Homo sapiens: one gene and its partners. The protein of the gene in region 1 purifies or fractionates together with the protein of each later gene. This does not show direct contact. Each region holds a gene or a part of one and is shown on either strand. Other genes may lie near its edges. The genes, in order: ADGRG2, INTS1, TUBGCP4 and ARFGEF1.

Region 1 (5,319 bases):
TCCAGCATGGGCGACAGAACGAGACTCCGTCTCAACAACAACAAAAAAAGCTAGAAGTTTAATGATTTATTATGCCAGACCAAATTGTTCTTGCACCAAAATGTCCTCAAGCCGAAATGCCTAAATCCAAACAGCTGCCTCAGACAGTCACATGCCCTATTTGATCTGTGTCACAGATGGAGCTACGTTAACCATATTCATCACCTAGTTTGCATGAATATTACACAGTTCAGTTCTGAGCTGCCTTAGAGGGTGGGGTACCAGCAGCCATCTCATTTGGTACCCAGGACCACAAGGATCACAGTTTGGAAGCAACATCACACGTCAACTCCATTACTTCTGAGCTGTGTGACCTTGGGGAGAGCACTTAATTTCTGAAACCTTCGTTTCCTCATCTGCAAAATGGGGATAACAGTAGTACCCACCCTGCAGGGCTCTAAATGAGATAATAAAGTGTCCCAGTACTGTTATGATCATTGTTATCATAATCATGTCATGAACTATCAAATGGGCTTATTATTCAGCTTTGTGTATAGTCTCCCAATGGTCTAATGATCAGAAGGATGGTGCCAAGTAACTAGAGGAGGCCAGCACCTGTGCTCCCCTATAACTCAGGGCCTGCTTGGGGTGGGGAAGGCCCACGTCCAAACCAACAGTTACCCTTGAGTGCCCAGCTGCTCCCTGGCCTGGACTCTGAAGTTGGAATTGGTAGTTTCCTCTTGGGAATTTGTCCTGTCCTGATTTAGTCAGAGGAGCTGGTTTAATCTACAAGAGAGATGATTTCTTCTTGCCATGACTGTTGTAGCTGGTTGCTCTGGTTTCTCTGGTACAAAGTTTCATTTTATAGGAACCTAGGGAACCAAGAACTTCCTAAGGGTACATATGGGGATCTCTGTTAACATTAACCTTTTGGGAGACCAAAGTATTACCTTAGCTTATATTATACATATGCTGCTACTTGAAGTCAAAACATATCCAACCAGAGTTAGGAAGTGGGCCTTTTATTAATATATTACCTTGCTTCAGATTTTGACTGTTTCATTAAAAACCAAACAAAAAAAAAACTGCCATAGAGAACTGGTTTCTGAAGCAATCTCCACTTTGGTATGCTTACTTTGAGTGGCCTTAGGGAAGTAATGAAAAATAAATAAAATATGAACATATATCACAAATGTTTTTAAAAACATATTTTACAAATACATCTTTAAGAATAAAGCAATGTCTAAGTTTGTTTGCTTTTTAATGCTTTCTGTGGATACTTCATGCCACCCGCTTTGTGTTTCCTTATACAGGAAATGCTTCTACAGAGAGGAATGGGGTCTCTTTTAGTGTTCAGAATGGAGATGTGTGCCTTCACGATTTCACTGGAAAACAGCACATGTTTAACGAGAAGGAAGATTCCTGCAATGGGAAAGGCCGTATGGCTCTCAGAAGGACTTCAAAGCGGGGAAGCTTACACTTTATTGAGCAAATGTGATTCCTTTCTTCTAAAATCAAAGCATGATGCTTGACAGTGTGAAATGTCCAATTTTACCTTTTACACAATGTGAGATGTATGAAAATCAACTCATTTTATTCTCGGCAACATCTGGAGAAGCATAAGCTAATTAAGGGCGATGATTATTATTACAAGAAGAAACCAAGACATTACACCATGGTTTTTAGACATTTCTGATTTGGTTTCTTATCTTTCATTTTATAAGAAGGTTGGTTTTAAACAATACACTAAGAATGACTCCTATAAAGAAAACAAAAAAAGGTAGTGAACTTTCAGCTACCTTTTAAAGAGGCTAAGTTATCTTTGATAACATCATATAAAGCAACTGTTGACTTCAGCCTGTTGGTGAGTTTAGTTGTGCATGCCTTTGTTGTATATAAGCTAAATTCTAGTGACCCATGTGTCAAAAATCTTACTTCTACATTTTTTTGTATTTATTTTCTACTGTGTAAATGTATTCCTTTGTAGAATCATGGTTGTTTTGTCTCACGTGATAATTCAGAAAATCCTTGCTCGTTCCGCAAATCCTAAAGCTCCTTTTGGAGATGATATAGGATGTGAAATACAGAAACCTCAGTGAAATCAAGAAATAATGATCCCAGCCAGACTGAGAAAATGTAAGCAGACAGTGCCACAGTTAGCTCATACAGTGCCTTTGAGCAAGTTAGGAAAAGATGCCCCCACTGGGCAGACACAGCCCTATGGGCTCATGGTTTGACAAACAGAGTGGAGAGACCATATTTTAGCCCCACTCACCCTCTTGGGTGCACGACCTGTACAGCCAAACACAGCATCCAATATGAATACCCATCCCCTGACCGCATCCCCAGTAGTCAGATTATAGAATCTGCACCAAGATGTTTAGCTTTATACCTTGGCCACAGAGAGGGATGAACTGTCATCCAGACCATGTGTCAGGAAAATTGTGAACGTAGATGAGGTACATACACTGCCGCTTCTCAAATCCCCAGAGCCTTTAGGAACAGGAGAGTAGACTAGGATTCCTTCTCTTAAAAAGGTACATATATATGGAAAAAAATCATATTGCCGTTCTTTAAAAGGCAACTGCATGGTACATTGTTGATTGTTATGACTGGTACACTCTGGCCCAGCCAGAGCTATAATTGTTTTTTAAATGTGTCTTGAAGAATGCACAGTGACAAGGGGAGTAGCTATTGGGAACAGGGAACTGTCCTACACTGCTATTGTTGCTACATGTATCGAGCCTTGATTGCTCCTAGTTATATACAGGGTCTATCTTGCTTCCTACCTACATCTGCTTGAGCAGTGCCTCAAGTACATCCTTATTAGGAACATTTCAAACCCCTTTTAGTTAAGTCTTTCACTAAGGTTCTCTTGCATATATTTCAAGTGAATGTTGGATCTCAGACTAACCATAGTAATAATACACATTTCTGTGAGTGCTGACTTGTCTTTGCAATATTTCTTTTCTGATTTATTTAATTTTCTTGTATTTATATGTTAAAATCAAAAATGTTAAAATCAATGAAATAAATTTGCAGTTAAGATCTTTAAGTTTGGTAATTTTCACAAAGAAAAAACATCTGCAGTCTCTTTCCCTGGTGGCCTGGCATGGAAGTGGTGTAGGACATGCTGATTAAGACAAACACAATTGGCTGGGCATGGTGGCTCACACCTGTAATCCCAGCACTTTGGGAGGCTGACGCAGGTGGATTGCTTGAGTGCAGGAGTTGGAGACCAGCCCGGGCAGCACAGGGAGACCCCTGTCTCTACAAAAAATTAAAAATTAGTTAGTCATAGTGTTGTGTGCCTGTACTCCTAGCTACTCAGGAGGCTGAGGATGGAGGACTGCTTGAGCCTGGAAGTTTGGGGCTGCAGTGAACCACGATTGTGCCATTGCACTCCAGCTTAGGCGACAGAGCGAGACACCATCTCTTAAGAAGACAAACATAACAGTAACATCTTTTGGAAATCAGCAGGTACCCTGTGACTATGAAATTAGAGCAAGGGTTGTTCTGCCTCATGAGATCAGTTTCTGAGGTCTCCTTTCCCATTACTCTTTCAAGATTATCTCTTCAACACATTGCCTTTGGCCTGTAGGCAATGTACAAGACCCAATTCAGATCTCATCCAAGTATCTGCTTCCTCAGTGTCAAACAGGTAGGACTACTGAAAAGTGAGAACAGGATTTGGGATTTCTGCATTGCTGGTTAGCATGTGGGATCCCCAAATACGGGAAGCTGGCCTCACCCTGGTAAGAGGTCTCTGAGCAATCTCTTCTTCAAGGTCCTCAGCTCCCACAAAGATGCCGAGTACTAAATTCAAAGGAAGATGTGAGATCCTCTAGATTGGGAGAGGGGTGAGACCTCAGAAATCAATCCCCCAAAACAGATTATATAACCAAAATATACATAAAAGGATGCACAATGTCCAGTATCCTTTAGGTCCCACCCCCTTATTTTTCCTACTGTGTCTGTGCTGTGGTCCTTAAGCAGAATTCTCTCATCTATTTTTCTTACTTTAGACAGACGTACGGCAGGACAGAGAGTGTTTCTGAGAAGCATCCTCCTTTGGGTCTAAGATTGATCCCATGTTCTGAGACTCTATTGTAAGGAAACAGAGGTGGTGCCAATATTAGGAGGCAAGGAGTGTCAGGGCAGAGGCCAGTATTTAAAGAAGTATTTCCTCAAAATATTGGAGTAGTTTTTTTTTGTTTTGTTTTGTTTTTCCTCAAAACACACTGCAGTCATTAACCCCACAAAGGAAGTCTGCTGACTTCAGTGAGCAGCATCATGATCGTTCTTACTGAAAATGGTGAAGCAAGCCAGGCAAGCACCTGTAGTCCCAGCTACTTGGGAGGCGGAGGCAGGAGGATCGCTTGAGCCAGGAAATTGGAGTCCATCCTGGGCAACACAGAAAGACCTCCTGTCTTTAAAACAAACAAACAAAAAACGATGAAACAGCTTCACTTGGGATACTGGGTATGTCTAAGGAGGTCAGCTAGGAGTCAGTCGGTTTGTCAAAGGCCATTTAGACAAAGATTAATTTACAGCATAACCAATTCACAGAGTGGACTTGTTTGGTGTCATTTTGTCTCCATAACAGCATTTTAAGGACTAGTTTGTCTTTGTCTCTGCTCCTTGCTGTTCTAGTTGGAGTCCGAAGGAAAGGAAAAAGGAAAGACTGGGTAGACATAAGAACATAATCTTCAATTTGAAGAATTCTTATCAGTGTATACTTTTTTTTTCTTTTTTTTTTTTTTTTTTTGAGACAGAGTCTCGCTCTATCACCCAGGCTGGAGTGCAATGGTGCAATCTTGGCTCACTGCACTCTCCACTTCCTGGGTTCAAGCAATTCTCCTGCCTCAGCCTCTCGAGTAGCTGAGATTACAGGCACCTGCCACCATGCCCAGCTAATTTTTGTATTTTTTGTAGAGATAGGGTTTCACCATATTGGCCAGGCTGGTCTTGAACTCCTGACCTCAAGTGATCCACCAGCCTCAGCCTTCCAAAGTGCTGGGATTACAGGTGTGAGCCACTGCGCCTGGCCAGTATATACTGCTTTCTTTTCATGTTAGTCTCCAGGTACAGCATCAAGAAGTCAGAGCAGGCAAAAATGGAATATATGTTCTTTTAGAATATATTCTTTTAAATATATTTAATAAATATATTCCTCACTGTGAAGAAATCTTATGTTCCCTGGTGTTTCCTCTCTTTATCTCTTAGCCTCAAACGAGCTACAGGAAGCTGGAGCAGAGACAAATTCAACATTCTTTAAAATGTAACGAAAAAATGATTTCCAGTCAACTAAATTATCATAGAAATAACTAAATTTGGTGA
Region 2 (6,488 bases), on another chromosome or scaffold:
CCAAGCACCGCTGGTGCCAAGGCTAGAGGCACCTCCTCTCCCGAGAAGGAAACTGAGACTTGGGAGGAGCACGGGGCTCCTGTGCTAGGTGAGCACTTGCTATGTGCGGATGCTTTGCGTAGGTGCACGCATTTGATCCTCACAGATGCTGCAGGAAGGCAAGCAGCATCACTGCCATTTTGTCGTGGCCAAGGGGACATGTGCGTGTCCCCATCCAGCCCCTGCCCTCGGGGCTTTGCTTGGCTGGACCAGGTCCCATCCAGCTCTCTGGCTCCGCAAAGCCACTGGGAAACCCCACAGGCCCAGGCCCACACAGGGCCAGCTTCTCCGGCTGCCCTTCCCAAGGGCGACGCCTGTGACTGTGTCTGCCTCCCAACAGGGGTCACCACCCACCCACGTCCACCCGAACCCCAGCATGAGGGTTCCGCCCCCTTCCCCCACTGACAGACACAACGGGGTGAACGTGGGAGCAGTTCATGGTGTCAGCCAGGAGTAAAGGGGAAGGCTGCGGCCGCAGAGGGCACGGCTGGGTAGGCGCTGGGTTCCAGACACTGCGCTGGCCAGAGCGTCCTCAGGGTCACTCGCCTGGGCCCCGGGGAGAGGACCCACTTGCCTGGCAGCCTCATGTCGCACCTCCACACGGTGAAATCCCGAGTTTGCCGCCTCCCAGGCACCGCAGGCCTACACGGTTAGGCTGGGGCAGTGAGGACTCTGACCCCAGGCTGTACCAGGCCCTCCAGCTCAGGGCTCTACAGGCTGGGAGGTCCCACCACGTGGGGATCTCCCACACGTCCACCAAGTGCTCAGAGACACGCGGGACGGACTGCAGCCTCCTCTTTAGGAGAGAAGCCAGGACACAGGGTTGAAGGGCTGGGGGGCTTCCCGCCCAGAAGCAAGGCAAGGATGCGGAAGCCGCTGGGTGTGGTCAGGGCTGTGGCCCACCTGGCACGAAGCTGCCCCTCCCGGGGCCTGTGGCGGCTCACCTCGAGGCGGGCCCAGCGTCAGCAGGATCACCATGGCATGGACCACGAGGATGTGCATGGTGGCTGTCTCCCCGCTGCTCCAGCGTAGGAAGACCTGGTCCTGAGACTCCGACTGTGGGAAAAGAGGTGGAGTCAGGCCGTAAGGTTCAGGGACCCTGAGCCAGCGCCGAGGGTACCCAGCTGGCACCGAGCGTGCCGTGCAGCCTCACCCAGCCGTAGACCTCCTCGCCCTCACCCGGCCGTAGACCTCCTCGCCCTCACCCAGCTGTAGACCTCCTCGCCCTCCTTGCTCTGCCGCATGCGCCTCACGTAGCGTGAGAAGATGGACAACAGAGCGCTCAGCACGGCGTCCGACGCGGCACTCGGGGAGAGCTTCGAGAAGAGGTGGGACATGATGGTGGAGCGCTCCACGACCAGCCGGGCCACGTCCTGGTGTGTGGACAGGGGGGCGTCAGAGGCTCCGAGACAGCTCTGCTCTCCGGCCAGCTGGGGTGACCTCGTCGCAGGCACGCTCTCACTGGGATCTTAAGCAGGGCCCGCGGCACCGCAGACCCTCACTCAGCCGCAGGCCGCCAGGGAAGACGACCAGAGCTGGGTCGGACTCTCCAGGGGGGAGGGAGGACACGACTCTCACAGCCAGGGACAATGACCAGGCCCTGAAAGCGGACGCTGCTGCCCTCTGCCCGGCAGCCACCATCTGTTCACCTATCGCTCATTCCCTGAGGACTCGGGCCACCAACTTTCACTAGGTCACAGCGCAGGTTGTGGACAAGAGAACCGTGATGCAAAGTGAGAAGCAGCCCAGCAGAGAAGGACAGCACCCAGGAGAGAAGATGGGAGTCAGCGCCACACATGTGAGCTAGAGATGCTGAGGACAGCGGGCAGGTGCCCAGCGACCTGGGCCCACAGCCCAAACCCTCCTGGCGTCGGGGAGAAGGCTGATGGCTCAGATTCCACCCTGCTGTGAACAAGGCACCCTCACCCCCGTGGCTTCGCATCCTCAGGGTCTGGGGAGAAAGGCTCCAGGGAGTGAGTGGTGACTAAGGAAGGGACACAGGTGGCCACGGGGTCATAGAAGCCCCAGCACAGCAGCCGTGACGGCCCTCCCACCCTCAATGCCTCCCTGTGGCCCAAGAAGCCGCCAGCCCAGGGCACTGCACCACTGGCCCCTTACCCTCCCCAGGGCAGGGTCTCTGTGCTGACCCCGTCCCCTCCCCAGGGCCACACTGCCGGCTGGCCCCGTCCCCTCCCCAGGGCCACACTGCCGGCTGGCCCCGTCCCCTCCCCAGGGCCACACTGCCGGCTGGCCCCGTCCCCTCCCCAGGGCCACACTGCTGGCTGACCCTGCTGCCTCACCAGGGCCAGGTCGCTGTGCTGGGCCTGCTCCTCCACAGGCGTGTGCTGGGACAAGTAGATCAGGTAGGCGCTGATGGTCTGGGGATCAGTCTCCATGTGGATTGCCTGGAGGGGAGGGTGGTCTGAGCGGCAACAGGGCAGGGCTGCGGCCCTCTCATCTTTCCCTGCCGCGGCCCCGGTCAGCGCCCTCACCTGCTGCAGGGCCAGGGCTGTGGTGCTCCTGACGCTGTCGAACAGAGGCAGGCGAGGCAGGTCCCGCAGCAGCCACTGATAGCCCTGCAGCACATCTGTGTCCCCCACATCCTCCTCCATGGGGGGCTCCTTCTCCTCCCCGTCCCGCAGGCTGCCCTCCGAAAGCACCAGCGACAAACCCTGTGGCAGACACTCATGAGCTGGGCCGGCTTTCGGCAGTGCAGGCAGGGTCTCACCCTGGCCCCGGGAGCACACGCATGGTGCCCTCAGAGCCCCGAGGAGAATGTGGCGCTTGCTTCCCACGGGAGAGGCCGCAGGTAAAAGGGAAAAACGAGACTGAGCTCTTTCTGTTAAATGCTTCTGTTCAAGTTCCTGAAGCCACTCTGGACCCTCCCGTCACCAGCAAGAAAGGAACACCAGGCAGGCGGCAGGGTCCACCTTCACGTTTCACTAGCGCATCCTTCCTACGCAGGGAAGGAACTTAAAATACAGTCAGAGTGCACTGAACACTCATTTGATTTTTACTTTTCCTTTTTAAGACAGGGTCTCATTCTGTTGCCTAGGCTGGAGTGCAGTGGTGTGATCACAGCTCACTACAGCCTCAAGTGATTCTCCCATCTCAGCCTCCCAAGTGGCTTGGACCACAGGTGCATGCTGCCACACCCAGCTCATTTTTCTCATCTTTTATTTTTTGTAGAGATGGGTATCATTATGTTGCCCAGGCTGGTCTCAAACTCCTGGGCTCAAGTGATCCTCCTGCCTCAGCTTCCCAAGTAGCTGGGAACACAGGCACACACTACCACACCTGGCTAATTTTTTCAGTTTTTGTAGAGAGAGGATCTTCCTGTGTTGCCCAGGCTGGTCTCAAACTCCTGGACTCAAGTGATGCTCCCACCTCGGCCTCCCAAAGTGCTGGGATGACAAGAGCAAGCCACTGCCCCAGGCCTACTCATTTTACTTCTTTATTTTTCATTTATTTATTTTTTTTTTTTTGAGATGGAGTTTCACTTGTTGCCCAGGCTGGAGTACAGTGGCACAATCTTGGCTCACCTCAACCTCCGCCTCCTAGGTACAAGCGAGTCTCCTGCCTCAGCCTCCAGAGTACCTGGGATTACAGGCCCCCTCCACCACGCCCAGCTAATTTTTTCTATTTTTAATAGAGACGGGATTTCACCATGTTGGCCAGGCTGGTCTCCAACTCCTGACCTCAGGTAATCTGCCTGCCTTGGCCTCCCAAAGTGCTGGGATGACAGGCGTGAGCCACCGTGCCCGGTCCCCAGCCTACTCATTTTAAACATGAAGAGCGTGCGCAGAAAGACCCGCCCACCACCTCACCTTCATGGCCAGCACGCGGGAGGCCACCTGGGAGGAGCCGAGGCGCCGCAAGAAGTAGTCCAGCACCTCACACGTGGTCTGCTCATCAGCCTTCGGGCCCAGTAGCAGGTCCTGCAGGCGGCCCAGCAGCTGCCGCTGCTTCTGTTGCCTCTGCAGGGAGGAAGGGGCTCTCAGGGGTGCAGGTGACAGGCCAGGCGGGTAGGACGTGGGGTGCGCGGCTGGTGGGCTCAGGCATGGGTTGCCCTGACAGGGGTGCGGGGTGAGAGGCGGGGGGGCTGAGGGGTGGGCGGCCCTGACCTGCCGCTTCTTGGCCTTCTGCTCCTTGCTCTCGCCCTCGTCGTCCTCCTCCCCGGAAGCAGCATCGTCCACAGCATCGTGCAGCAGGAACTCGCACAGACACTGCACGGGCAGCACGTCCAGGGAGCCCTCGCTGGACTGTACCAGGTCCGCCAGCCAGGGCATGGACTGCGAGGAGGCCTGGGCAGGCGACAGTGGCGCCCGCTCAGCACCTTCCAGGCCCAACACCTGCCGCCAGCCCCCCGGGTGACCGCGGAGCCGGAAAGGGCGACACGCAGCAGCCAGCTCATGGGCCCCGCATCCAGGTGTGTCCTGCCCTCTTCTGGCCACCAAGGCCTCCGGAAGGTTCCGGGCCTCCCAAGACCACCATCTCTACCTCCTGGAGCCTCGGCACTCACCTGCCGCTGGATGATGTGGAGGAGAAAGTCAGGGTTTCGGCTGCGGCACAAGAGGTGCCCGAGGCGGAGGGACTGGTTGAGGCTTTTCACTTGATCCAGGATGTGAGGGGGAGGCCTCCGGGGGGGCCCCCTGAGGGCCACAGGGGACACGGTGCGTCAGCACGCCCTGAGCGGATCACCCCCAGAACCCCTCCTCCTCCCATCCCTGCTTCGAGGGGCAGCCGACAGCCCGAGACGGGCAACCCATCCTGACCTGGGATGTCCCCAAGGCCTGGCCCCACAGCAGTAAGCCAGGGACGCGGGGACGGGGCTCCACAGGCCTTTCAGGTTCTGCCGCAGTGCGGTCGGCTCCGCCTGCTCCTTCAGCCTCTGTCCCACCCACACCAACCACCCACAGGTCCCGACGGCAGGCGCAGGGCGGGGCTGTGTGGGCTGCGTACTGGGGGTCCAGGCTGGTGAGCTGCGACAGGAGGAGGCTGCTGCTCTCAGTGATGGTCTGCTTGGTGGACGCGGCCGCCAGGTGCCCCTCGAAGGCCAGGATCTCCTGCTTCTCCCGCTGGGCGGTCTGCAGCTCACGGTTCAGCATCTCCGTCCGGGTCTCCTCATCCGTCAGGGTGCACGGTGGGTAGGAGTAGTTGCTAGGGCCAGACGGGGGAGCGTGTCACCCTGCCCCCCATGAAGGGCTCACTCCCAGTGGGCCACGCTCAGGGTCAAGGAGGGTAAAACCCCTACGGCTGCTGCTGCCTCTGCTGCACAGCAGTCAGGAGCACAGGGCGCCCGGTAGCATCCATGGGGCTGTCAGAGCTGAGACGAGAAGCCGCAGCGCTGCCCAGAGGCGCGGTCCAGCCACTGCCTCGTCCTCCGCAGGCAGCACGCCTGCCCTCACCAGAGCCAAGGCCAGCGGTGTCAGAACCTGGCCTCCTCCCAGGCCACCTCCCCTTCCACGCCACCTACGCTGGGAGCATAGCCTAGTTTGACAGCCATGTAGGCTCTGCCCGCCCCATCCAGGGACAGACCTGCAGGGCAGGGACTCTCTTGCCTACAGAGGCACACGTGGCTTCGGCGTGTTCCAAAACCCAGCTCCCCATGGCCGCTCTAATCTGAGCTCTGTCCCCAAGGCCCCAAAGTCAGTCTGCTCCTTCAGAGGTGGGGGGAAGCAGCTGTGCCTCCCACCTCAGGACACACACGCACCCACTCCCCACAACACACAGGCAGACACACACCCAGTCCCCACAAAACCATGGGCAGACACATGCCCAGTCCTCACAGTGCAACGGCCCCAAACGTACCCGATCCCAACGCCACACACACACACCTGGTCCCCACAATACCAGGGCCACACACACTCCCCGTCCCTATGATGCCACAGCCTCGGGCGCCCCTTCACCTTGGCCACTGCCCTTGGTGTGGTGCCCTCACTGGTGAGATAGGATGCTGGCCCCAGAGCTCATCGGCCCTCGCCCACACTGTGTGGGCACCAATGCTGCCAGGCACAGCTGGTGGTGAGCCCTGGGCGTCTCCTAGGCAGGCTGTGCCGACTCTCGTCCCACCTGCACTGAACTGTCCTTGAGGCTCACCCACTGCTGATCCCACGCAGGGTCACACCTGGCCCACTGGCCAGTGTTAAAGCCCACCTGGCCCACTGGGCCTGGCTCCATCCTGTCTAACCCATCTCTGGCCGGATTCTCTTGCCACGTCCTCCAGCATCGCACCACCCCCAGCCTGCCCAGTCCCCACTCCTGTCGGCAGCATAAGCGCTGCCCAGAAGAGCTGGGGGTGCCTGCGGACCTCCCTGCTGGCCTCCGTGATGCCGCCTCAATCCACACCCCCTCTCCCGGCAAGGGAAAGAGAAGAGAACAAAGTGCAGCAGGCTTAGATCCAGAAGCTCAGGTCCATGAGTCAACAGAAGATGCTAAGATGCTGATGC
Region 3 (6,488 bases), on another chromosome or scaffold:
GCTAGGGAGGGGGTGGGGGAGACAACCACAAGTAATTCATCTTTTCCCTTCCTTTCTTTCTTATGAAAAATTCTCAATCATGTATTTTCTACCATTTCATCCTCAAGGTCTCAGCTTTAAAGTCACTTTGTCAGAAAAACTTTCTCTGAGCACATCTTTAAGCATCCTCCCCTGATGCCATTATTCTCCATCAACTTGTTTATTTCCCTTGTAGGATTTGTCACAATTCATAATGTATTGTTGTTACCTGTTTTTAGCCTTTCTCCCGCATAGATTGCCCCTGGGAGCGAAGACCAGTGGTCTTCTTCATTCATCTACCCAGAGCACCTAGCACAGTTTCTGCCACATAGCAGGTGTTTAGGTATTGATGGAAGAAAAGAAGACAAAGATGGCAAATATTACATAATTTCTGCAGAGCAGTGTCTTTTACATTTGAGTAAAGGGAAAAGTTGTCATGAGTGCCAAGTGTTAATGAAAATTATTTTATTATATTGAATATGTATATACATAAGCTAGGTATAAACTCAAGCATAATACTCTTAAACAACTATAAAATCAAATATTTTTATAAATTAAAAGTAAACAAAACTACCAAATCAATAAGTTCAAATGACCATTATTCTAATGCAGGATTTCTCAGCCTGTTCCTATAACTGTGTTATATAGAATGGTATCAGTAACTTCGAGTTATTATTTGCTGTTTCAGAATAATTAGATATTGAACTTTTCGAAAACTCTGCCAACAAGAAACGCTCAAATGCCAATTTTAATAGTAGTATCACTTGATAACTGGTAGAGCTGTCTTGTTAATAATATAAAATTGCTTATGTGTATTGAGCACTAGCTATGTGGTTGGGATATGTGCTTTACACATGTATTAACTTATTTAATCCTCACAATTATTTTCTTCAGTTTATAGGTATGAAAACAGGCACAGACAGGTATAGTAACTTGCCTAAGCTTTCAAGCAAGTAAGAGGCAACTCAGGGATTCAAACCCAGGCAGTTGGGCTCCAGAGACCAGGTTCTTTTTTTTTTTTTTTTTTTCCGAGATGGAGTCTCGCTCTGTCGCCCAGGCTGGAGTGCAGTGGTGCAATCTCGGCTCACTGCAAGCTCCACCTCCTGGGTTCACGCCATTCTCCTGCCTCAGCCTCCCGAGCAGCTGGGACTACAGGCGCCTGCCGCCACACCCGGCTAATTTTTTTGTAGTTTTTTTAGTAAAGATGGGGTTTCACCGTGTTAGCCAGGATGGTCTCGATCTCCTGACCTCGTGATCCGCCCACCTCGGCCTCCCAAAGTGCTGGGATTACAGGCGTGAGCCACTGCGCCCGGCAAGAGACCAGGTTCTTAAGCACCGTGTTGTGCAACCTCTTAAGTTACTAACTTGAAGATGTGATTAGCATTGTGTCATTAAAATCTACATTAATTGGATTCCTAATCAATTTTCTATGGACTTGGTAACAGAAAAATTCTTCTTCGCCTATTTGTTACCACATTTACTGTCATATAAAATGGCATCCACATATAATCCATATTATATATCCATCCATATAATATGCTAAGTTCCTTTGGAGCAGTAATTGTATCTGATTTTGTTCACTCTTTTATCTCAAAGTATTAGCACAGTACCTGGGATATAGTAATGGAAATGTAAAATGGTACAGCCATTGTGGAAAATGGTATGGCAGTTCTTCAAAAAATTAAATAAAGGCCAGGCACAGCGGCTGACACTTGTGATCTCAGCACTTTGGGAGGGTGAGGCTGGAGGATCAGTTAATGCCAGGAGTTTGAGGCTAGCCTGCGCAACAGAGCAAGACTCCATCTCTACAAAAAAAAAATTTTTAATTAGCTGGGCATGGTGACACATGCCTGTAGTCCTAGCTACTCTGGTGGCTGAGGTGGGAGAATTGGTTGAACCTAGGGGTTCAAGGTTACAGTGAGCTATGAACCCACCACTGTATTCCAGTCTGGGTGACAGAGTGAAACCTTGTCTCTAAAAAAAAAAATTAAATATAAAATTCCCATACAATCTAGCAGTTCTACTTCAGGGTATATCCCAAAAGAAGTGAAAGCAGGAACCCAACAGATATTTGTACACCCGTGTTCACCAAGCATTATTCACAATCGCTGAGAGGTGGAAGCAAGTGTCAGTGCAGGGACGAATAGGTAATTGAGATGTGGTATATACACACAAGGGAATATTGTTCAGCCTTAAAAAGGAAGGAAATTCTGGCATGTGCTACAACATGGATGAGCTGAAATAAGCCAGTCACAAAAGGACAAATAATGATTCCACTTTTTTTGAGACAGAGTCTCGCTCTGTTGCCCAGGCTGGAGGGCAGTGGTGCAATCTCAGCTCGCTGCAACCGCCGCCTCCCGGGTTTAAGCAGTTCTCATGCCTCAGCCTCCCAAGTAGCTGGCATTACAGGCGCCCACCACCACGCCTGGCTAATTTTCGTATTTTTAGTAGAGACAGGGTTTCATCATGTTGGCCAGGCTGGTCTTGAACTCCTGACCTCAGGTGATCCACCTGCCTCGGCCTCCCGAAATGCTGGGATTACAGGCGTGAGCAATTGTACCCGACCTGAGTGATTCCACTTATATGAGGTAGCTAGAGTAGTCAAAGTCAGAGGCAGTAGAGTGGTGTTTGGCAGGGGCTGGATACGGAGTTTCATTTGGGGCAAACAAAAAAGTTCTGGAGATGGATGGTGGTGCTGGTTGCACAACAGTGTGAATGTTCTTCATACCACTGAACTATATACTTAAAATAGCTAAAATGGTAGATTTTATTATACGTATTTTACCACAGTATTTTTAAAAAGTTGGTTGAAGGAATATATTTTCCCACTACTTTTTTCTACCTGAACTGCTGTGAAACCTTTGTATATAGCATATTAGGCTATCATTTGGCTTTCATTTAAATTAAAAATACAAATGTAAATATGGACACTAAATATATATGGCCAGTTATAAGGTGCATTTACAGATAATAGGTATGCTTAATTTTAGATTTTTACTGGAATGAAAACAATGAAAACTTCTATAGGGAATTTGTAAATCCTAAGAATATGTCTGAGAAACCCATGGAGTCTGCAGACCCCCATTTGAGCAATATTGCTAAAGAGACTTTGTTGCAACCAGGTCAAAACCCCCATATCCTTAGAGACCATCCCTAGAAGATTGCTTAAGAAGCAGGTAATAGCGGCTGCTTCTGGGGTGGTTGACTTATTTTTAATGTACACCATTTTATATTGTTTAAATTATTTAGCATGTGTTACCTATTTTAAGAAGCAAATAATTGGGTCAGGGATAGGGAACCCCTTTGAAGTGCTTTGGAAATACATTGTTATCCAGAACTTAACACCTTTAAGTGGACATCTTGAGAAAGAAAACGATAAATGTGTAGTATGAAGCGTTTGAAGCACCTGAAAGTTGGGGCAGCGACTGGCGGTGTTTTCGGCAGTGTTCCTCTTCCTGCAGGTATCGCAGGACTTCCCTTTCCTCCACCCCAGTGAGACCAGTGTCCTGAATCGACTCTGCCGGCTCGGCACAGACTATATTCGCTTCACTGAGTTCATTGAACAGTACACGGGCCATGTGCAACAGCAGGTGGGTCCTGTTCTCTGTGGGTGTACACCTCTAGAGGGCAGGAGCTATGTCAAGCTTTCACCTCTAGAGGGCAGGAGCTATGTCAAGCTTTCAGTGAATTTATCGGTAATTCATGTGAAATAAGTTATGGATTTCTCATCACTAGAAATATTCAAGTGAAGGCAAGGCCTCTAATTGGTTTGTTTGTATAACTTTTAAAAGAAACAAGCCTGATAATGTCTTTCTCAGGTTTCAGGGCCTGAGCTGAGAAGTTGGCTTCTGTTTGTTTGATTTCAGGATCACCATCCATCTCAACAGGGCCAAGGTGGGTTACATGGAATCTACCTGCGGGCCTTCTGCACAGGGCTGGATTCTGTTTTGCAGCCTTATCGCCAAGCACTGCTTGATTTGGAACAAGAGGTAAGAAGGAGGAGATATAGGAAACACCTCTGGGACAGTAGATTAGGGCATGTTCTTGAATCTGAAATGCCCTTTGATAAGATCAGGTAGTTAAGAGTGAGCAGTTGCCTGCATGGCTGGAAGGTACAGTGTTCTCTCAGTGATTGCCCAACCTGTGATCAGAGTGGCTTACAGATCATGGCAAAGACTCTTTAGTGAGTTTATAAGAGCCCTGGCTTGGTTTCTTTATGGCCCGAAAATCAGGATTAATAACCTGATTAAATTATCAGTTCTCGATAGCCTAAAATTAACACTTAAGCCCATCATGAGATTCTCTTCTCATTTTCATAGATCAAATAGATTTGAGATATTTTGTGTGGAGCTCTAATCACAAAGTTTTTTATTGCAGTTCCTGGGTGATCCCCATCTCTCCATATCACATGTCAACTACTTCCTAGACCAGGTATGCTGCCCAAATAACCAAATGCCTTGCAATCTGTTGATAGTGTTAGAATAATCTAATTTATGGTACTGTTTTTGAGAACTTTTTTTCTTCTGGATTCAGAGCCTAACATTTTATATTTTGTGCATTTTGTATGTTTTACTAGATCAAAACTGTTTAAAGATTTCCAAATATAGTTAAAACTTAATGTCTGATATTAACGCTAATGTTACTGCTCTATATGGACATCAGTATTAACAAGTATGCCAGCCTCAGAAATAGAAACTGCTTCCCGACTGGGCATGGTGGTACACACCTCTAATCCCAGCACTTTGGGAGGCCGAGGTGGTTGGATCACTTGAGGTCAGGTGTTGGAGACCAGCCTGGCCAAAATGGTGAAACCCTGTCTCTACTAAACATACAAAAATTAGTCGGTTGTGGTGGCGTGCACCTGTAGTCCCAGCTACTTGGGAGGCTAACGTTCTGAATCCAGGGGTGGAGGTTGCAGTGAGCTGGGATCCTACCACTATACTCCAGCCTGGGTGACAGAGTGAGACCCTGTCTCAAAAAAAAAAAAAAAAAGAAAAAAGAAAAAAAAGAAACTGCCTCTCTCTGCCATCCTCTTCCTATCTGCAGCGAACCTCCACATCAAATTGCCTTAGGATGCTGGATCTTGACTGTTCTGTGGTATTGCCATTTTATCTTAAGTTGAACTATTTAGAAACAAAAGCATTTCCCAAGTTGATTTTTTTTCCCTTACATTTGATTACATACCCTTCTAATTATTCTCTACTTTGCAGTTCCAGCTTCTTTTTCCCTCTGTGATGGTTGTAGTAGAACAAATTAAAAGTCAAAAGGTGAGAACTTTCCTTATTCCTTTTGCTTTGCTAAGCACTGAGGGAATATTACTAATTAATTTTGCTTTACATTATTTTTCGAAGACCCTAGTTTTTAGTAGTTTTTATTTATTCATTCATTTAACAATATCTGCTTGGTTATCATGTTAAGTGTCAGGAATGCAAAAGTATGACTCTGCCTTTAAACACCTCCTGGTCCAGAAGGTAGAGGAAATGTTCATAGATGTTCCCAAGAATGTTGTTGGGGTAAGAAAAAAAGTGCTGTGGATGTTTGCAGGTGAGAGGAACCTGCAGTAAGGTTTTAGAACTGTTGGGTGTGAAGCAGAAAGTTAATTCTTAGGAAGAAGGTAATAGGTTTATGGTTAGTGTGCTGGCAGTTTTCTGAGAATTTTGAGATCAGTGAGTGAAAGCCAGATGTTTAATAAATATGCCTATTCTTATCACAAGTTTTTATCAGGTGTATTGAGAAGTTAGGAGAATGTCTTTCTGGGCAGAGTTAATAAGTCTGAGGAATAAATGCTTTGAGATTTCATATTAGAAGAATCTGCTGTCCTATTGAATTGGTCCACAATTGGACCAAGTGGACAAATGGATTAAACATCTTTAGCTCAAGTCGTCATTTTTTTTAAGCTCTTTATTTGTGCCTTAGCTTATTAGGGGTGTTCATTTTCATTAATGTAACTAGTAAACCAGTTAATCTGCCACATTGCTGCATCATTTTTAACTGTGTAAGTGTAGAAACAGTGCTCTGCTATGTTCATGCTGTGCCAGCAAAGCCAGTGGTGGGTGCTCATTGGCCCTTCAAAGCTGATTGTCCTCATCAAATAACAACATCCAGCTTTTACTGTCACTGGCTGTGTACTAGGCACTGTGCTAAGTGCTTTAAATACATTATCACACACAATCCACTAAAGGGCTAAGTTGGTTAAGGGGTGTGCCCAGTGTCACACAGATAGTAGTAAATGGGTTTATATCCCAGCTCTATCTGGCTCCAAAGAGTGTGCTCTTAACCACTAGATTAAACTATCTCCCAAAATAAAAGGAGACATTCTAGGCAAATAGAGTTAATGAGGACAGCATAAGGGAGCCAGGCCTAGCTGCACGTCTCAGTTGGCCTTCAACTTCCGCTGGCTATAGGAAGGAGAGTGGAAAATAGGGGGATTGCAGATGGCTGAATCTTCCTCCCTGCCAGAATAGTGGTAG
Region 4 (3,500 bases), on another chromosome or scaffold:
ATCTCACGTGATGGGTCACAGTCAAAACACAGTCAAAATTTTGTTTCATGCACAAAATTAACAACAGTGCATAAGACCAGGTGCAGTGGCTCATGCCTGTAATCCCAGCACTTTGGGAGGCCAAGGTCAGCGGATCACCTGAGGTCAGAGTTTGAAACCAGCCTGGCCAACATGGCAAAACCCCATCTCTACTAAAAATACAAAATTAGCTGAGCATGGTGGCGCATGCCTGTAATCCCAGCTACTTGGGAGGCTGAGACAGGAGAATCACTTGAACCTGGGAAGCGGAAGTTACAGTGAGCTGAGATCGCACCACTGCACTCCAGCCTGAGCAACAATAGCTAAACTCCGTCTCAAAAAAAAAAAAAAAAAAAAAGAATAGTGCATAAAATTACCTTTGGATTGTGTATAAGGTGGATGTGAAACATTAGTAAATTTTGTGTTTAGACTTCAATCTCATCCCCAAGATATTTCATTATGTATATGCAAATATTCCAAAGTCCAAAAAAAAAAAAAAAAACAAAATTGAAAACATTTCTGATCCCAAGCATTTCTGATAAAGGATATTTAATCTGTACTTCAAAAAGTTAACAGTGTTTCAATGAAGTAACACTTCATCATAACAACTAGGATGGCTAAAAATAAAAAGGCAGTAACAAATATTGGTGAGAATTTGAAGAAACGGGAAGCCTCATACACTGCTGGTGGGTATGTAGGCTGGAAAAGAATTTAGCAGTTTCTTAAAAAGTTAAACATAAATTTATCAAGTGGCCCACCAATTCCCTTCCCAGTTTGTCTACCTAGGACAAATAACAGTTTACGTCCACACAAAGACTTATACACAAATATTCATGGCAGTATTATTCATTCAACCCAAATATCCATCAACTGGTAAATGGATAAACAAAATATAGGATATCTAAACAATGGAATGCTATTCATCAATAAAAGGAAATGAAGTGTGGATACAAACTTCATGAATGAACCTCAAAAACATACTGAAAGAAACCAGACACTAACGACCACCTGTGTATAACTGCATTTCATGAAATGTCCAGAAAAGGCAACTCTAAAGACAGAAAATAGATTAGTGAATGCCAGAAGCTAGGGATGACAACAAGGGCACTACAGATTTTATTGAGGTAATAGAAATGTTCTAAAACTGGATTTATGCTGATGGCTGCATAATTCAGTAAATTTACCAAAAATCATTACACTCAAAAAAAGTAAATACTATAGTATGTAAATCATTTATCAGAAAGTTGTTTTTCAAAAAGTTAACAGTAGTTATTTATCTTCAGCTAAGAGTATCACGGTAAATTTTTTTTTTTTTTTTTTTTTTGAGACAGAGTCTCACTCTGTCACCCAGGCTGGAGTGCAGTGGCGCAATCTCGGCTCACTGCAAGCTCCGCCTCCCGGGCTCACACCATTCTCCTGCCTCAGCCTCCCAAGTAGCTAGGACTACAGGCGCCCGCCACTACGACTGGCTAATTTTTTGTATTTTTAGTAGAGACGGGGTTTCACTGTGTTAGCCAGGATGGTCTCGATCTCCTCACCTCATGATCTGCCCGCCTCAGCCTCCCAAAGTGCTGGGATCACAGGCGCCAGCCACCACGCCGGGCCCCGTATCACAGTAAATTTTATTGTTGTAGTTACACTTTTGAAAATGATTTGAAGGATTCGTTTATAAAAAATATCAAATTACCAAACTTACTGGAATTATAAAAGCATACAGACTGAGTAAAAGCCATAGAGATTCTCTTCTATATAAAGTGCTTGGCCTTCAAAATATGTACTTTGACTGCTTATATTTTTATTATTTCTTAGCAAAGTTCTGACAGATGAGGATTGTTAAACAGCTGATTAAATGAAGTCTCAATGTACACATTTTTGTTAAGAAAAATTAATAGCCTCACATGGCGTTTCCTAAAGACACGCCAGTGGTAATATGAAATATTTTAAAGATTTTCTTTTTTTTTTTTTGAGACGGACTCTCGCACTGTCTCTCGGGCTGGAGTGCAGTAGCACAATCTTGGCTCACTGCAACCTCCGCCTTCCAGGTTCAAGCGATTCTCCTGCCTCAGCCTCCTAAATAGCTGGGATTACAGGCGCCCACTGCCACCACGCCCGGCTAACTTTTTGTATTTTTAGTAGAGACGGAGTTTCACTATGCTGGCCAGGCTGGTCTCGAACGCCTGACCTCATGATCCACCTGCCTCGGCCTCCCGAAGTGCTGGGATTACAGGCGTGAGCCACCGCGCCCGGCCATTTTAAAGATTTTCAAAGACTTTTCTGAATGAAAAGATAACATAGGTTATATAAACAAATTTAGTTACATCAAGTCTAAGTCTAAGCAAAACAAAATATCAAAAGCAGAACACAAAACTTTTTAAATATTCTTAAATACTTGAGCCCAGACCTTTTAAGAAGCTTTTCAAGAGCCTCTACTTATAACACACTAAAGCCTCAGAATAACTGCTTTCTAGATTCATGAAACAATCAGAGATGAGCCAAAGACAGGATCTGATTGTGTAAACATATGTACAGTAGACTCTGTAAGTGGAAACTTGAATAAAGAAATCAAAATGGGTCTGAAAAGTTAGGATAAAAGGGAACTTGCATTCATTTCCTAAGGCTGCCTTAATAAATTACCATAAATTTGGTGGCTTAAAACAACAGAAATTTCCTCTCATAGTTCTGGTGGCCCAAAATCTAAAATCAAGGTCACAGCAGAGCTATGCTACATCCAAAGGGAAGAATCCCTCCTTGCCTCTTCCTACTTCTGGTGGCTTCTGGCATTCCATAGCATGTGGCAGCAGTAACTGATCTCGTCTCCATTTTCACATGGACTTTTTCCTTTGTATGTGACTGTGTCCCTTCCTCTTCCTTAAAAGGACACCATTCACTGGATTTAGGGCCCACCTAAAGGCTCTAAGTTGAGGATCTCAACTTCACCTTGAGATCTTTCACTACATCCACAAAGTTCCTATTCCAGGAAAAGAACCAGACAAGTGAAAGGCTCATTTCTTTGATAAAAAAACCTCCCTGCAAAAAACCTGACAAGGCAGGCCGGGCGCGGTGGCTCACGCCTGTAATCCCAGCACCTTGGGAGGCCAAGGCAGGAGGATCACAAGGTCAGGAGATCGAGACCATCCTGGCTAACACGGTGAAACCCCATCTCTAATAAAAATACAAAAAAAATCAGCCGGGCGCGGTAGCGCTACACGAGATTAGCTACTCGAGAGGCTGAGGCAGGAGAATGGCGTGAACTCGGGAGGCGGAGCTTGCAGTGAGCCAGGATCGCGCCACTGCACTCCAGCCTGTGTGACAGAGCGTGACGCCGTCTCAAAAAAAAAAAAAAAAAAAAAAACAGACAAAACAAATTGAAATTATTTTGTGTTATTCTCAGTAGAAAATATCCTATTATATCATCTGAAAATTCTATCATTAAAACATTCTAAAATACATATAAAAGGCAGGATGAAAATGTTTTACTGTCT

Evidence for each region.
Region 2: the proteins of ADGRG2 (region 1) and INTS1 purify together in Homo sapiens (affinity purification with mass spectrometry; one large-scale study listed by BioGRID and IntAct). This does not show direct contact.
Region 3: the proteins of ADGRG2 (region 1) and TUBGCP4 purify together in Homo sapiens (affinity purification with mass spectrometry; one large-scale study listed by BioGRID and IntAct). This does not show direct contact.
Region 4: the proteins of ADGRG2 (region 1) and ARFGEF1 purify together in Homo sapiens (affinity purification with mass spectrometry; one large-scale study listed by BioGRID and IntAct). This does not show direct contact.

What each region holds. Positions count from the first base shown.
Region 1 is NC_000023.11:18,987,022-18,992,340, reverse strand, and holds the end of ADGRG2 (adhesion G-protein coupled receptor G2 isoform 1 precursor), read left to right. Parts: intron 1-1,292; coding exon 1,293-1,477; 3' UTR 1,478-3,034; downstream 3,035-5,319. UniProt on the Homo sapiens protein: Adhesion G-protein coupled receptor (aGPCR) for steroid hormones, such as dehydroepiandrosterone (DHEA; also named 3beta-hydroxyandrost-5-en-17-one) and androstenedione.
Region 2 is NC_000007.14:1,482,759-1,489,246, forward strand, and holds part of INTS1 (integrator complex subunit 1), read right to left. Parts: intron 5,200-6,488; coding exon 5,002-5,199; intron 4,692-5,001; coding exon 4,562-4,691; intron 4,344-4,561; coding exon 4,164-4,343; intron 4,017-4,163; coding exon 3,867-4,016; intron 2,712-3,866; coding exon 2,532-2,711; intron 2,445-2,531; coding exon 2,340-2,444; intron 1,413-2,339; coding exon 1,245-1,412; intron 1,096-1,244; coding exon 984-1,095; coding exon of another isoform or gene 943-983; intron 1-942. UniProt on the Homo sapiens protein: Component of the integrator complex, a multiprotein complex that terminates RNA polymerase II (Pol II) transcription in the promoter-proximal region of genes.
Region 3 is NC_000015.10:43,372,619-43,379,106, forward strand, and holds part of TUBGCP4 (gamma-tubulin complex component 4), read left to right. Parts: intron 1-3,479; coding exon 3,480-3,608; intron 3,609-3,836; exon of another isoform or gene 3,837-3,884; coding exon 3,885-4,007; intron 4,008-4,395; coding exon 4,396-4,449; intron 4,450-5,228; coding exon 5,229-5,285; intron 5,286-6,488. UniProt on the Homo sapiens protein: Component of the gamma-tubulin ring complex (gTuRC) which mediates microtubule nucleation.
Region 4 is NC_000008.11:67,333,782-67,337,281, forward strand, and holds part of ARFGEF1 (brefeldin A-inhibited guanine nucleotide-exchange protein 1), read right to left. Parts: intron 1-3,500. UniProt on the Homo sapiens protein: Promotes guanine-nucleotide exchange on ARF1 and ARF3. Promotes the activation of ARF1/ARF3 through replacement of GDP with GTP. Involved in vesicular trafficking.